2 linked regions of the Homo sapiens genome follow. The protein of the gene in region 1 interacts with the protein of each later gene in a biochemical or structural test. Each region holds a gene or a part of one and is shown on either strand. Other genes may lie near its edges.

Evidence for each region. Proteins that work in one complex are often made in the same cells at the same time.
Region 2: of the proteins of CUL2 (region 1) and DCUN1D4, one has a biochemical effect on the other in vitro, tested with the Homo sapiens proteins (2 studies listed by BioGRID, with this or other methods).

What each region holds. Positions count from the first base shown.
Region 1 is NC_000010.11:35,038,325-35,045,353, reverse strand, and holds part of CUL2 (cullin-2), read left to right. Parts: intron 1-485; coding exon 486-582; intron 583-677; coding exon 678-788; intron 789-6,271; coding exon 6,272-6,434; intron 6,435-7,029.
Region 2 is NC_000004.12:51,846,153-51,853,181, forward strand, and holds part of DCUN1D4 (DCN1-like protein 4), read left to right. Parts: intron 1-2,052; exon of another isoform or gene 2,053-2,215; intron 2,216-2,269; exon of another isoform or gene 2,270-7,029. UniProt on the Homo sapiens protein: Contributes to the neddylation of all cullins by transferring NEDD8 from N-terminally acetylated NEDD8-conjugating E2s enzyme to different cullin C-terminal domain-RBX complexes which are necessary for the activation of cullin-RING E3 ubiquitin ligases (CRLs).

The sequences.
Region 1 (7,029 bases):
GCCTCCCAAAGTGTTGGGATTACAGGCACGAGCCACGGTGCCTGGTTCTATTTCATATTCCTTTTATTAGAAAAGCTAACATTTCACCTACATGTCTTAATATGATTAAGACTTTGTAGTTTGTAGTGAGTGAAAATCAAGCATTCTTAACCGCCAGTATTAAAGTTTTGAATTGATGGGCTCGTATCTACTTTGTTAAAATTAAAGAAGTGTTATCTTATTACTGACATAGTATCTTGAACTTTACAATCAGTTTTCTTTTTATTTCTTGAAATGACATCTAATGTATACATTAACTATCATGAATATTAACTCAGCTGTGATATAAAAAAAATCATTGTTAAGATTCATGCATGTACCTTTTTATAGTTCTTTACACTTTGATTAGACCAATAGAATAAGGAGCCATATTTTGGCATATTTTGGGTATATTTCCATAGATAATTTGTATTCTCAAGAATATTTTGTGTTATACCTTGTTTTAGTGATCGTGGTGGAGAAGACCCAAACCAGAAAGTAATCCATGGGGTTATTAACTCCTTTGTTCATGTTGAACAGTATAAGAAAAAATTCCCCTTAAAGGTAAACAGCCTCCTTTAAAAACAAATAATCAGACTGTTAATTTCTTAAACTGCTTGTTCTAATTTCTTCTAATATGATGTAATTGATTTATTCAGTTTTATCAGGAAATTTTTGAGTCTCCCTTTCTGACTGAAACAGGAGAGTATTACAAACAAGAAGCTTCAAATTTATTACAAGAATCAAACTGCTCACAGTATATGGAAAAGGTAAGAAATAAAACATATCGAATACATTTATCTATTTTGTATCTGGCCTGGTTTTATTTAACATCGTTCTTAGTTTTCTTGTTTTGTTTCTTGGTGGAAAAATATTCTGTTTATTTAATCTATTTAATCATTAACTCTGAGTTACAGTTATTATATAATATCGATTGATAAGTCATTGCTCTTTACAATACCCTTCCAGTTTTCATCATAATTGATGCTTTTTGATAAATCCTGACTGCTTGGTTTACTTGTCCTTGAAATTAATATATATGCACATTCTTGGCAGAATAATCAGTTTATACTGGATTTCATGCTTAGTGGTTAGTTTAGAGAATAGGATAAGTGCAGAAGCTCTGTGTTGAGGTTTTTTTCTTCCTTTAAAATGAGAGGAAAAATATGAGGAAAATATAGTAATTCTAGACATTTGGATGAGTCACTCTTTTGGTCTGTTAAGTTCTTGAAAGGCTGAGAGACAACCCCACGTGAGGTGTTTTTTTTTTTTTTTTTTTTTTTTGGAGATGTGGTCTTGCTCTGGTGCCCAGACTAGAGTGCAGTGGCTTGATCATGGCTCCCAGGCTCAAGTGGTCCTCCTGTCTCAGCCTACGAAGTAGCTGGGACTACAGGCACACACCACCACGCCCAGCAACTTTTAAAATTTGTTATAGAGATGGGGTCTTGCTGTGTTGCCCAGGCTGGTCTCAGAACTCCTCAACTTGAGCAGTCCTCCTGCCTCAGCCTCCCAAAGCGCTGGGATTTTAGATGTGAGCCATTGCACCCAGCCAAGAAATTTTAATTGATCACTAAACCAGTACATATTGGTTATCATATGTTAAATCCCATGTTTATTTTCTCAGTAGTAGAAGAAAAAAGTGTTCATACAAATTAAACCACCATATGTAAGATATATTAGAACTTCTAGCCAGGTTTTTAAATCTGCAGTGTTGGATTTCAAGCATTTTATTTTGGGATGGTTTGTGTTAGTTTATGTAGCCAAGAAAGGTCGAGTAGTTTAAGTGGGTGAGCTGTCATCCTACATCCCTAGGCCACAAGTCACAAAGCATCCGTGCTTACCGATACACTGTTGTGTCATCCACAAAGCCCAGATCTAGAGGTCTTAGTTGTTTGATTATCTTCCTGCTTTTCTTACTAGTTAGCTCTGTCCCCTGAGCAAATTATCTGGAACTTTTCCCCCATCAATTAAGTTCAGGTTACACTAGATCAGTGGTTCTAAGCTCTTAGCCCTTATTGCACCTTAGACTTTTGTTGAAGCCTCTAGATCCAGCCCCAAGAATCACACACAGATTATCTGTGATACATGCACTTTGCTCTGTCTGGCTGTCAAAAATATGCCACTGGCAAGTGGTGGCAGTAGCCCAGATGTCTGTTAGAAGTTGAAAGAATAAGCAAAATGTGATACATATGTGCATTGGAATATTATTCATCGTGTGTAGTGAAAAACTCTCTCAAACCATGTTTTTCCTCTACTCTCACACCACAGCAACAATCATCAGCACAGAAGGCTTCTGTAAACAAAGGTGTGGCTCTCTTCTCCCACACACCAAGCAGCAGACACCAGCTAGGTGTCCTCCAGTTCAACTCTAACACCATCTACTTGAGATAGTGGCTAATCCCACAGTTTGGGGACTGAGTCTCCAAGACTGCCCTGCACACCCCCAGACACCAGTCACAAGTCTGGGCCTCCGGACTACTGACCGACTGGCTTTCAAGTTGAAGTCCTACAGTACACTGTTTGGGTTCCATTAATTTGCTAGAGCAGCTCACAGAACTTAGGGAAACACTCACTTAATGTTTACTAGTTCATTAAGAAGGATATTTTAGAGGATACAAATAAACAACCACTTGAGGAGACACATAAGGGAAGGTCTGAAATCACCATGAGTGCAGGAGCTTCTATCCCTGTGGAACCCAGTCTTCTTGGATTTTTGTGGAAGCTTCATGATGTCAGTAGTCTTTCCCCCAGCGTACAGGGTGGGGCTTTCTCTGGGGAGGGTCTTATGACCCACAGTCAGAAAGGTAGGGCAAGATTAGAGTCCTGCCTTGAGGCAGGTGAAAGGAGAGTAGGAGAGAAATTCTGTTTCCTGAGACCTAACACACTCAACATTATAACTAAAGACTGTAACTAGGGCTAAGGGAGTTATGAACCAGGAACCACAGATGAAAACCAATGTACTTACATATCACAACACCACACAGTCTTTAAAAAGAATTGAAGTTATACATGATACAACATGGATGAACCATGAAAATGTTATGCTAAGTGGAAAAAGACAGACACAAAAGGGCAAATATTCTGTGGTTCAATTTATAGGAAATATCTAGAACAGACAAATTCAAAAGGACAGAAGATAGATTAGAGGTTATCAGGGGAGGAGGATGTGAGGAGTTGTTACTTAATGGTTATAAAGTTTCTGATGGGGTAATGAAAAATATTTGGAAGTAGACAATGGGGGTGATTACACAACATAGTGAGCGTTATTTAATGCCACTGAATTGCCCACATAAAAATGGCTAATGTAAATTTTATTATCTATGTTTTTACCACAATTTAAAAACATTGATAATGTAATATACCAAAACCATTGAATTGCACACTTTAAATGGGTGAATTATTTAATATGTAAATTACATCTCAAGGTGTTAAAAGGGAAGGAGGGACATTGGAATAAATTATGTTTGGAAAAGAATGTTTATTAGAAAAGCTTATTTCAGGCTGGGCACGGTGGCTCAGACCTGTAATTGCAGCACTTTGGGAGGCTGAGGCGGGCAGATTACGCAAGTCCAGGAGTTCAGGACAAGCCTGGGCAACGTGGCAAAACCCCATCTCTACAAAAAATTAAAAAACTAGCCACACATGGTGGTGTAGTCGTCTGGTCATAGCTCTTGGGACGCTGAGGTGGGAAGATCACTTGAGCCTGAGAGGCGGAAGTTGCAGTGAGCCGAGATTGCACCACTGCCCTCCTGCCTGGGCCAGAGAGCGAGATCCTGTCTGACAAAAGAAAGAAAAAGAAAAGCTCATTTCAGGAAATAATGTTGGACCATATTAGCTTCAAGGGCAAAACCCTGGGCTTTGCTCTCCATTTAGTTAATTGGGGAATGAGTCAGTACAGCCTTCCTGCCTCCTTGCTGCGTTCCTCTTATAGCTTTGGCCTTTCTTTCCCCCAGGGGTTTTACAGCTGTTTGAAGCCCTGCACTGGGGCAGTCCAACCTTCTCTACATTTCTCTTGATATGCGCCTCTCTCTCCCAAGTTATCATTGTTTTATTTTTTCCTTCTTCCATCCTCCTTCACCTCTCTCAGACCCACTGTAATTCCTGTTGCATTAACTTGGCAAGCAGATTAAAGTCACTATAGTATGCTCTGAATGACTAATAGACTTAATCCTTTTTGTTATAAAAATAGCCCTTAAAGGATTTATTGTTAATCAAAGTGCCTTTCTTAGCTGATGTAATATGTGGTGAACACTTTTGTCCTCTAGACCAGGGGTCCCTGACCCTCAGGCTGAGGACCAGTACTGACCTGTGGCCTGTTAGGAACTGGGGAGGACCAGTACTGACCTGTGGCCTGTTAGGAGGAACCGGGCTGCACAGCAGGGAGTGAGCAGCCACTGTGTGAGCATTACCTACTGCCTGAGCTCCGCCTCCTGTCACATCAGCAGCAGCATTAGATTCTCATAGATTCTCACAGAGCGCAAACTCCATTGTGAACTCTGCATGCAAGGGGTCTAGGATGTGCGCTCTTTAGAAGAATCTAATGCCTGAGGATCTGAGGTGGAATACTTCACCTGGAAGCCACCTGCCCCCACCAATGCCGCCCGCACTCCGTCTGTGGAAAAATTGTCTTCCACAAAAGCAGAGCCTGGTGCCTAAAAGGTTAGGGACTGCTGCTCTAGACCCCTTCTTGCCCGACCTGAGTCTGTGACTTTGCCCTGAACTCCTGGCTTCAAAGGGTCGCACAATAGGAAAGACAGGACTGTGGGAACCTACTGTCTGGAGCCTCATTTTTATTGAAAATTTCTGATCCGCTTTCCAGGAATGATTTTCACTCCTTGTGCCCAGGCCAACTCAGCAGCACTCTCCAAAGTGCCAGGTGTATGTAGTTCCCCGGGAACACTTAATTTCAGAAACTCTAATTACACAGCTTTATGTTCCAGAGTGTTTCCAAGCCGGTGCATTTGTCTGTGTATATGTTGTTGTTTTGTCTTGAGACAGAAATTAGTCAAATTCTTTGGTTATTTTCCTTATGGGCTAGTTCTTGTTGATATTAACCAGTGTTATTTGTAGCTCAGCGCTTTATGTAGGATAAACTTTAATAAAAGTCTTGATTGACATACTTGACTATGACTAAATTATATTTACTTTCAAATTTTTTATTTTTTATTTATATTTATTTTTTGAGACAGAGCCTCGCTCTTATTGCCTAGGCTAGAGTGCAGTGGCGTGATGTCGGCTCACTGCAACCTCCTCCTCCTGGGTTCAAGCAGTTCTTCTGCCTCAGCCTCCCGAGTAGCTGGTGCTACAGGCACCTGCCACCACACCTGGCTAATTTTTTGTATTTTTGTAGAGACGGGGTTTCACCATGTTGGCCAGGCTGGTCTCAAACTCCTGACCTCATGTGATCCACCCACCTCGGCCTCCCAAAGTGCTGGGATTGCAGGCATGAGCCACCTTGCCTGGCCTTATTTTTATTTTTTTGAGACAGTGTCTCACTCTGTCACACAGGCTGGAGTGCAGTGGTGCGATCTTGGCTCGTTACAACCCCCACCTCCCGGGATGAAGTGATTCTCTTGCCCTGGCCTCCCAAGGAGCTGGGATTACAGGCATGCCCGGCTAATTTTTATATTTTTAGTAGAGACAGGGTTTCGCCATATTGGCCATGCTGGTCTCAAACTCCTGACCTCAGATGATCCACCTGCCTTGGCCTCCCAAAGTACTGGGATTACAGGTGTGAGCCACCATGTCCAGCCCCTACTTTCAAAAATTTTAATTAAATCTTTAATATGGTAGTTAACTATCATGCACATACAGTTCCATTTACAAGAAGAGAAACCAACGTAAAATAATTAGATTCATCTACTTGATTTCAATATAATTTATTTTTTAGTTTGATAGTTATTCATAACAGAGATCACCTGTTCTGAATTTAATCATCTGTACCCACTTTTCCTGTTACATGTTATGTTGTCCATGTAATAGGATGAATGGTGTAGGTAAATGAAGACAAAATGCAGACTATTTAACTTTAGTTCTTGCTTATAAGACTGGTGGAATGTAGATGACAGCTAGTAGCTTAAATAAAAATTTGAAATGATTTATAGAATGTGGGTTTAAATTGCTTATGTAACCCTTATTACCTTTGCCATGTTTAATTCAGCCATTAAAATTTGGCTGAGTTACTTGCTGATATTACAGATTTTTCCTCATAGTAAAACTTTGTGTTCATGACTGTAAGAAAATATTTTTATAGGTTCTAGGTAGATTAAAAGATGAAGAAATTCGATGTCGAAAATACCTACATCCAAGTTCATATACTAAGGTGATTCATGAATGTCAACAACGAATGGTAGCAGACCACTTACAGTTTTTACATGCAGAATGTCATAATATAATTCGACAAGAGAAAAAAAATGGTAAGTGACACCAAACATGAGTAGAAATTAAATTATAAATCCACCTTTTATATCATCCTCTAGTCACCCTTGATTTAATGCCTATTTTAGTAATAGTCTTTAAAATATTTTAAATAACCTTTTACAGATTATTAATACTTTATTTTGAAAGACTATTTTAGGAAAGTGTTTTCAGAGTGTTCTAAAATCAGAAGAAAAAGTGGGAAATTGTGTTTATACATTTTTATATATTACAAGAGCTAATTTCCTTAATGCATTTAGAATTCCTGATAAACAGTAGGAATAAAGGCAAAGACTATAAAAAGGAAATACAAATATTATGTAATAAATGTAATAATTTATATAATATAAAAAATCAGCTATATCTGATTTTTTTTTTTTTTTTTTTTTTTTTGAGACAGAGTCTCACTCTGTCGCCCAGGCTGGAGTGCAGCGGCGTGCTCTTGGCTCGCTGCAACCTCCGCCTCCCAGATTCAAGTGATTCTCCTGCCTCAGACTCCTGAGTAGCTGGGATTACAGGCGCTCATCACCACACCTGGCTAATTTTTTTGTACTTTTAGTAGAGACAGGGTTTCACCATGTTGGTCAGGCTGGT
Region 2 (7,029 bases), on another chromosome or scaffold:
CCTCCATTCCCCAAAGCCCTAGGCTCCTACACACTTTCTGCTCTGGTTTTTAGGTTCCTTTTTGATTTTTGGCGCTTGGGGAGGTCCTTTATTTTCTTGTGAACGTAGCTGTGCATTTAAACAGATGTTTCTTACACGTTATCCAGAATTTTTGACTGTTTTATATTAAGAAGGATTTTTAGGTAATCTTGTCTGTAACATTGCCAGAAAAGAAGGCCTGCCTCATTTTCTCTTAGTGGACTTCACTCTCTTCTTCCTCTGTTGTTAACTCTGTGTACCCCTACTGGCACTTAATCATGTTTTTTCAAACTTTATCATTGTCTCCTTTTCTGTTTTTATGTTAAGTTGCTCCCAGCAGCTCTTCTTGGCTTATTACCTTCTTCCTGGCTACGTTTACATTATTATCTCAATCATCATCTGCTAATTATAACTAATAATTAATAGCTAATAATCCTGCTAACTTAGCAGTATAAAAATCAACCTGTGAGAAACTGACCTCATGATGATCTCTTGTATCAGTTAGGATGCCTTTGCCAATACAATGCTCAAATTAATGGCTTAAATAATAGGGCTTATTATTGTTCGGTAGCAAGAAACCTAGAAGTAGTTGGTTCTAAAGCTGGTGCAGTGGCTTAATGATGTCATTAAGGATCTAGGTTCTGCATCTTTTTCTTCTTCTATTAGTGTTTTAGCTTTTATTCCTCAGGCTCATTTGCCTCATGTTTGCAGTATGGTTGCCGTAGCACCAGACATCATGCCTGGATTGGAAAGCAGGGAAGGAAGGTGCATATTTCCTTATAACTCCCTGTTAACAGAGAAGTCTTTTGCAGAAACTCACTTTGGAGAGTTCCATTTCAGTGTCATTGGATTGAACTGATCTCATGCCACTGCTAGCTGTGAGGAAGCCTGACACAGTGAATGTCTGGCATTTACCAGCATCTCTTGTAAGATATGGCCTTTCGTAGGGTGGAAGAAGGGTGAGAAGAATGCGCTGGGTTGGCAACTTGCAGGTTATATCCCTGAACCAGCTACTTTGGCCAGCTGTCTCTGGCTTGGTCTCAACCTTTACGTTGATTTATTTTCTGCCTTATTCTAAAAGAATTAGGGGTGACTTGCTAAATATAGATAAAACCCTGTCAAGAGAAGAAAAATTTATATATAGACTTGTAAGGTACACAGAAACACTTGCCATATGTTAGAAATATTTGGCACTGAGCTTTTTAATAGTCAAAGAAGAGAACAAAACTAATAAATTTTATTCATTTGGTAAATGAAGCTGCAGTAATTTTAATAACCCACACTGAAATCCTGGACATTTCTTATCCTCTTCTTCCCTGGTCAGTGGCAAGGAGAGATTGCATCTCTTCCCATGCCCAGCCTCTCTTTCCCATACCTATTGCCATGGCCTTATGTCTGAGACAGCCTTTCTTACAGTGTTATAATAACCAGCAATACATTTTTCTTTCTTTTTTGTTTTTTTTTTTTTAGAGGTTGGGTCTTGTTATGTTGCCTAGGCTGGACTCGAACTCTGGGCTTCAGGGGTCCTTCCACCTCAGTCTCTGAGTAGCTGAAGTTATAGATGCACGCCACTGCACCCGGCTCCAGCTGCCCTCAGTGCTGCTGTTTTAGAATTTTTCTTTACTGTGCTCCCTCTCTAGCAGACTCTCCTTTCATGGAATCTCTGAAGCAGTGCTTCCTTCTGTTACTCAGTTTTATGTTACATAACAATAGCTGCTTGTTTACTTTTATTTCCCCTCCCCAATTAGATTATTACCTTTTTGAGATCTGGGACCATGTCTTACCCAGTATCCACTTTAGCATCTAGCATGATGCCTTGCATAGCTACCCAAATATGTATTGAATTGAACTTAAATGATCAACTATTGAATAACTTGTGCATTATCTAGAAAAATTAATTCTTCCTGTTCCTGTTGTCTTTCATTATCTTTAGATTTTTCTTCAAGGAACACAAGCTTTCACCTACTCATTCTTTGCATTTTTTAGACAAAGTCAGTTGTATGCAAACTAATTTAATATTTTTCAAACATGCAGATATCAGTTTTAGAGAATGTGGCGTGGAGAAATTCTCAAGGAAAGAGTAAAATGCTGGTGATGTGCTGAGGGAACAGAAGGAGTGTTTGTGAATGTGCACACGTCCGTTTCTGGTCTCTCGTGTCAGCGTCCTACCTGCACAAGGTTAAGGCAGCATTAACAGGTCTGATGTTAAGGGGCCTAGAGTGTTTGTCCTTTTCCCTTCTTTTTGTTTTATATCCATATTCTGGTCCTAAGGATTTATTTCTTAAGTTAACAATATAGTGAGATCACTGAAAGTCTTTCTTCAGATTTACAGAGTAAAATTTTCTTTGATGAATCTGACATAAATGCTGGTAAATTTTTATAGTTGGTCAACTCGAATTGGTATTAATTCTTCTCATAGCTTGCTTTTTTTCTTTTGAAATTTACATTAGGAGAAGTACCTCTTGAGAAGTATTCTAAGCAGAACATGTATTTTAAAATGTGTTTTAAGAAGGAAAACATTGAAATGCATTCTAAATAGAATTAGGTATTTTAACAATCATTGTGTGACAGTTTTAGATGTAGCAAAGTATCTGCTACTTCAGGTTTGAATTGCTTTTAATCAGAAAATGCTGTTAATGAGTTATGTTCAATCTAGGAAGATAGGCTTGTCATTTGTAACTAATGTACTGAAAAAAACACTAGATATGAAAAAGACCCCTGCCCTCTTCAAATAGCATTACCTGTGGTATGATTTATTTTAGTTCTGCCTTCGAGGATTTTTTTTTCCTTGTGAAATTTTTTGCTGGCCTGTATCAGTAGATTTGCAGAGACGGGGAGTAATCCATTTGTGCTTCTCCCCCTGCCCCACGACCACAATTGTTGGCTTTTAACATATGTCATCTTAGGCCTCCTCCATATTAGTTTATGATTAGTGTCTGTAATGGACACTGTCAGTCCATTGACTCTTGGTCTGATTGGAGAATTCTTACCCTGGCAGGCAGATCTTCTCAGACACACTCGCCTGAGACTGTGAACCTGAGGCTGGAGGCAAGGAAAGAAGAGTAGCCCATGTGGCCATTTTCTGGGGGGATGCACAGTGGTGGCTGCTGTGCTGCTTCTAGAGGCAAGGTCTAGTTGTTGCTGCAATGATGATGCAGTCTGCTGTGTCCCCTTAGGCATTGTTATGGCCAGGGGGAGATTCTGTGAACTGTCTAATAGCCGCCTCCCCTTTTTTTAAATCACTTTTCTGTTTAAATTACCTAGAATTAGTTTCTGATGCTCTCAACTAAGAATTCTGATACTTCAGCATCCAGACTTGTCACTGTCGCTGGTCAGATACGTGGTAGAAGCCCTTGTGAAGAGCAGTGATGTATCTTTTTCATCCTGGCTGCCTGTACATTCTGGTCAGAGGTGACCCAGAGGACTGGAGGAGGACACAGTCGATATCAGCTGTGGGTCGTGGGAGCTGTGTTTGCTGGTGGTCAGGCAGGACTCCCGAACCACACACTAGCCCAGCCCACTGGGTCTCATCATGTGCCACTCTTTACTGCTGCTTTTTCCTAATTCTTTGTCCCCCAAAAGTTGGGATGCCTAGGAGCTAATACATAACTCCTTGTGCATTTTTTTTTTGGCTCTGATGTGGGAATATTAGCTACAGAAATATGTGTGTGTGTGCGTGCGTGTGTGTGTGTGCGTGTTTTAGTGGAATGTTTATTTTGTTTAGCCAAAAATTACATCTGATGTACCAAATACCTTTTTAGTCAACATTATTTAGGTATAATTTCACGTATTATAAAATTATACTCATTTTAAGTGTTGTTGGGTGAATTTACTAAAGATATAGAACATTTCATTACCCCAAAAGTTCCCTTGTGTCCCCTTGTAGTCAGTGCTTCTCCTCCTGCCCCACTACCACAATTGTTGGCTTTTAACATATGTTACCTTAGGCCTCCTCCATATTAGCTGATGATTTGTCACTTTGCTGTTCCTGAGGATATTACAGTATAATAAAGGCATGATAAATCTCTCGTTTTTACTGAACTATGAAATCCAAAGAAAAACTATCAGTGCTGTATAAATTATCAGTCTGATAAATAATACTTTGCCGCACAGAAGTGTCTTGAGTTAGATGACTTGTTCTGGTGAGCGGCTTTCCAGTGGATGGCTTTTCTGGCTTCTCTGTGGCCTGTAGACATGCAGGGCTCGGGTTTTCTCCCTGGATGTGATGATGTCTTTTAATTGTTATCTGGGTCAGGTTGGGAGGCAAGAAAGCCAAAATGGCTGAATTCAAATCCTTGCTCTGTCATCTCCTAGCCAAGGGACTGGAGTAGAGTTACCCAGCTGCTCTGTGTGCGCTTCAGAGCCCTCATGCCTAAAAATTGCCTGTTGAAGGCTGTTCAGTCACCAAGTGTTTATTGGGTATCTACTATGTACCAGGCCCTGCTCTTCATATTTCATGAAGTTTTCCTTTTAGTGTAGGGGAGGGGGCAGATAGTAACAAGTAAATTGTGTAATACGTCAGATGGTGATAGGTTCTGTAGAGAAAAACAGCAGGGAAGGGGTGCATGCAGGCACCCCTGTGTGCGGGCGTGGGGTGGGGTGGAGGGTGTTGTAATTTTAAATAGTGGAGCCAGGAAAGGCTTCACTAAGGAGGTTTTAAGCTAAGCCCTGATGGAGCTGAGGGGCCATTCCAGGCAGAGAGAATACAAATGCAGAAGCTCAGAGTGGGGAGCAGGCCTATATTTGAGGAACAGCAGAGGCTGGGGTGCTTAGAGTTGTGGGGGAGGGCAGAGGGAAGAAAGTAGGAGGCAAAAATCATAAGTGGTCCAAAGGATTAAATGAGATGAAACACGTAAAGTGTTTTTGATGCTTACAATTACTGTGTGATGACAGTCTCCTAGGTAGCCTTTAAAAAATCACTCTTGAGAAGAAAAGTTATAAGAAAGAACAGAACCAAATGAGGCATTCCCTCACTCAGCCATTCAGCAAACATTCAAGGGGATTTTTGCTGCCAGGTGCTGCTGTCACAGGCAGGACTGTGTGGGGGAGACCGGGGCTTCAGGAGCTTCCTTCAGTGAGTTCATTGTGGAGACAGAAGGAATGGATGCATGGGACGATGATGCCTGCTAGGTTAGATGGATGCCCCGGGGGCTTTGAGAACATGTGGGGAATGGTTAGCAGTTGTCATGTGAGTTTTAGCTTTTGAAGTTGGATTATGTGAAGAACAGGATGTGTATGCATGTGCAGGTGGCATATGGGGTCAGGTGGGAGCTTTCCAAGCCCAGCGACAACATGGCATGGTGGGGACAGAGAACTGTGGCAGGAGAGTGGGTGTTTGGTAGGCTAGAGTGGAGGGGAAGGTGAGGTGCAGGGCTAGGCAGGAGCTGGTGGCAGGGGTGGGGTGGGGTCGGTGGGAAGAACTCAAAAGAGGCACCAGGGAGAGTGTATGAGTGGAAAGGAACTGAGAGAAGGAAAGAGAAGTCCCAGGTGGGGCACAGGGAGGGAGGAGGAGCAAAGGGGAATGGGGAGGGACTAACACGAATTCAGTGATGATCTTGGATTTGCTTCAACTGCTTTGCCTGCATTAACTCATTTAATCCTCACAGCAACCCTCAATAAGTTAGGGACTGTTATTATCTCTGTTTCACAGATGAGGACGCTGAGGTGTAGAAAGGTTAACTCCCCTTCTCAAGGTCACACAGCTTATAAGTGGTGAATTGAGATTCTAACTCAAGCATTCTGACTCCATGGTCTTGGTAACCCTCTACTGCCACTGAAATCATTCTTAACATTTTGTTTGTGCTTTTCATTGAACCCTGATTGGAACACTGCATGTATATTGGAATTCTTTTTTTTTCTTTTGTCACTGGCCTATGAATGATGCTGACAGAGCCAGCTGATGGATTATCTCTTGGTTCTTTTCTTCTTGGAATGAGTCCCAGCAGGATCAGGATCTGGGATTTCTGAGTCTCTTCTTTCCCATTCTTCTTCATCCCCTCTCATTTTTGCTGGTTTGCTTACAATGAGAGTAGACATTTAAAAACTGATTTTAAGTGGGAAACTGAAGAATTGTGGCAAAGTATTTTCATACTCTTAACTAATGAAATAGTCATTTTTAGTCTTCTTAGATTTTATTTAAATAGACTTTGTTATTTTTAAATATAGGAGATCTCAACGACATTGCAGCAAAACTAGAAAACAACTACTAACATCATTTTTACATAACATTTTTGAAATTATTTTTATTTTTTTTCCTGTAGGTTAGGGTAAGTTTAATGTCTTGTCCTACATATGCAATTCCCAAAATTAAGCCACAGATCACTTCTTAATTATTAATTAAACAGGAAACGGGATAGTTGTACATTTAAGTCCAATAGCTAGTGAATTAGTAGTTTTAAACACCATCACCTTGTGATCTCTTCTGCCCTGTCTTTTTGTAGTTCTAGGTTCAGTCTGTCTCAGTGTCTTCTACGTTCTAAATAATAATAGGGATGAAAACAATTAACGTTGATTGGCACATAATATGGACCAGCACTGTGCTAAGTGCTTGACATGCACCATCTCATTTAATAATCCCCACAGTAGCTTCGCAAAGAGGTTCTGTTATTTCGGCTTTATGGATGAGGACACGGGCACAGTGAAGTTTGGAAGCATGTACAGGGTCACTCAGTTGGGACTCAGTTGGAGCTCTGACTCCAACCCAGGGCTTTATGTTATCAGAGCTGATTGACATTCTTTAACCAAAATCTGGGCTCATTTAACATTAGTGAGATGGAAAGATTTTTACTGTGAACTACCCAGTGATTCTGTGTGCTTCAGTGGGTAGTACAGATCATTTGTGCTCACCTTCAGTGGGTAGGTGGGGTGAGGAGAATGAAGCTAGGGCCCTTTGTACCATGTCACATTGGGAGTGCAGCCAGACGGGTGTCCTGAAGTGACTGAGTCCCTTGGGATAGCACCAGCAGGCACAGGCAGTGTGGTGGGCGATGGATGGATGCTGCCTCCCTTGGG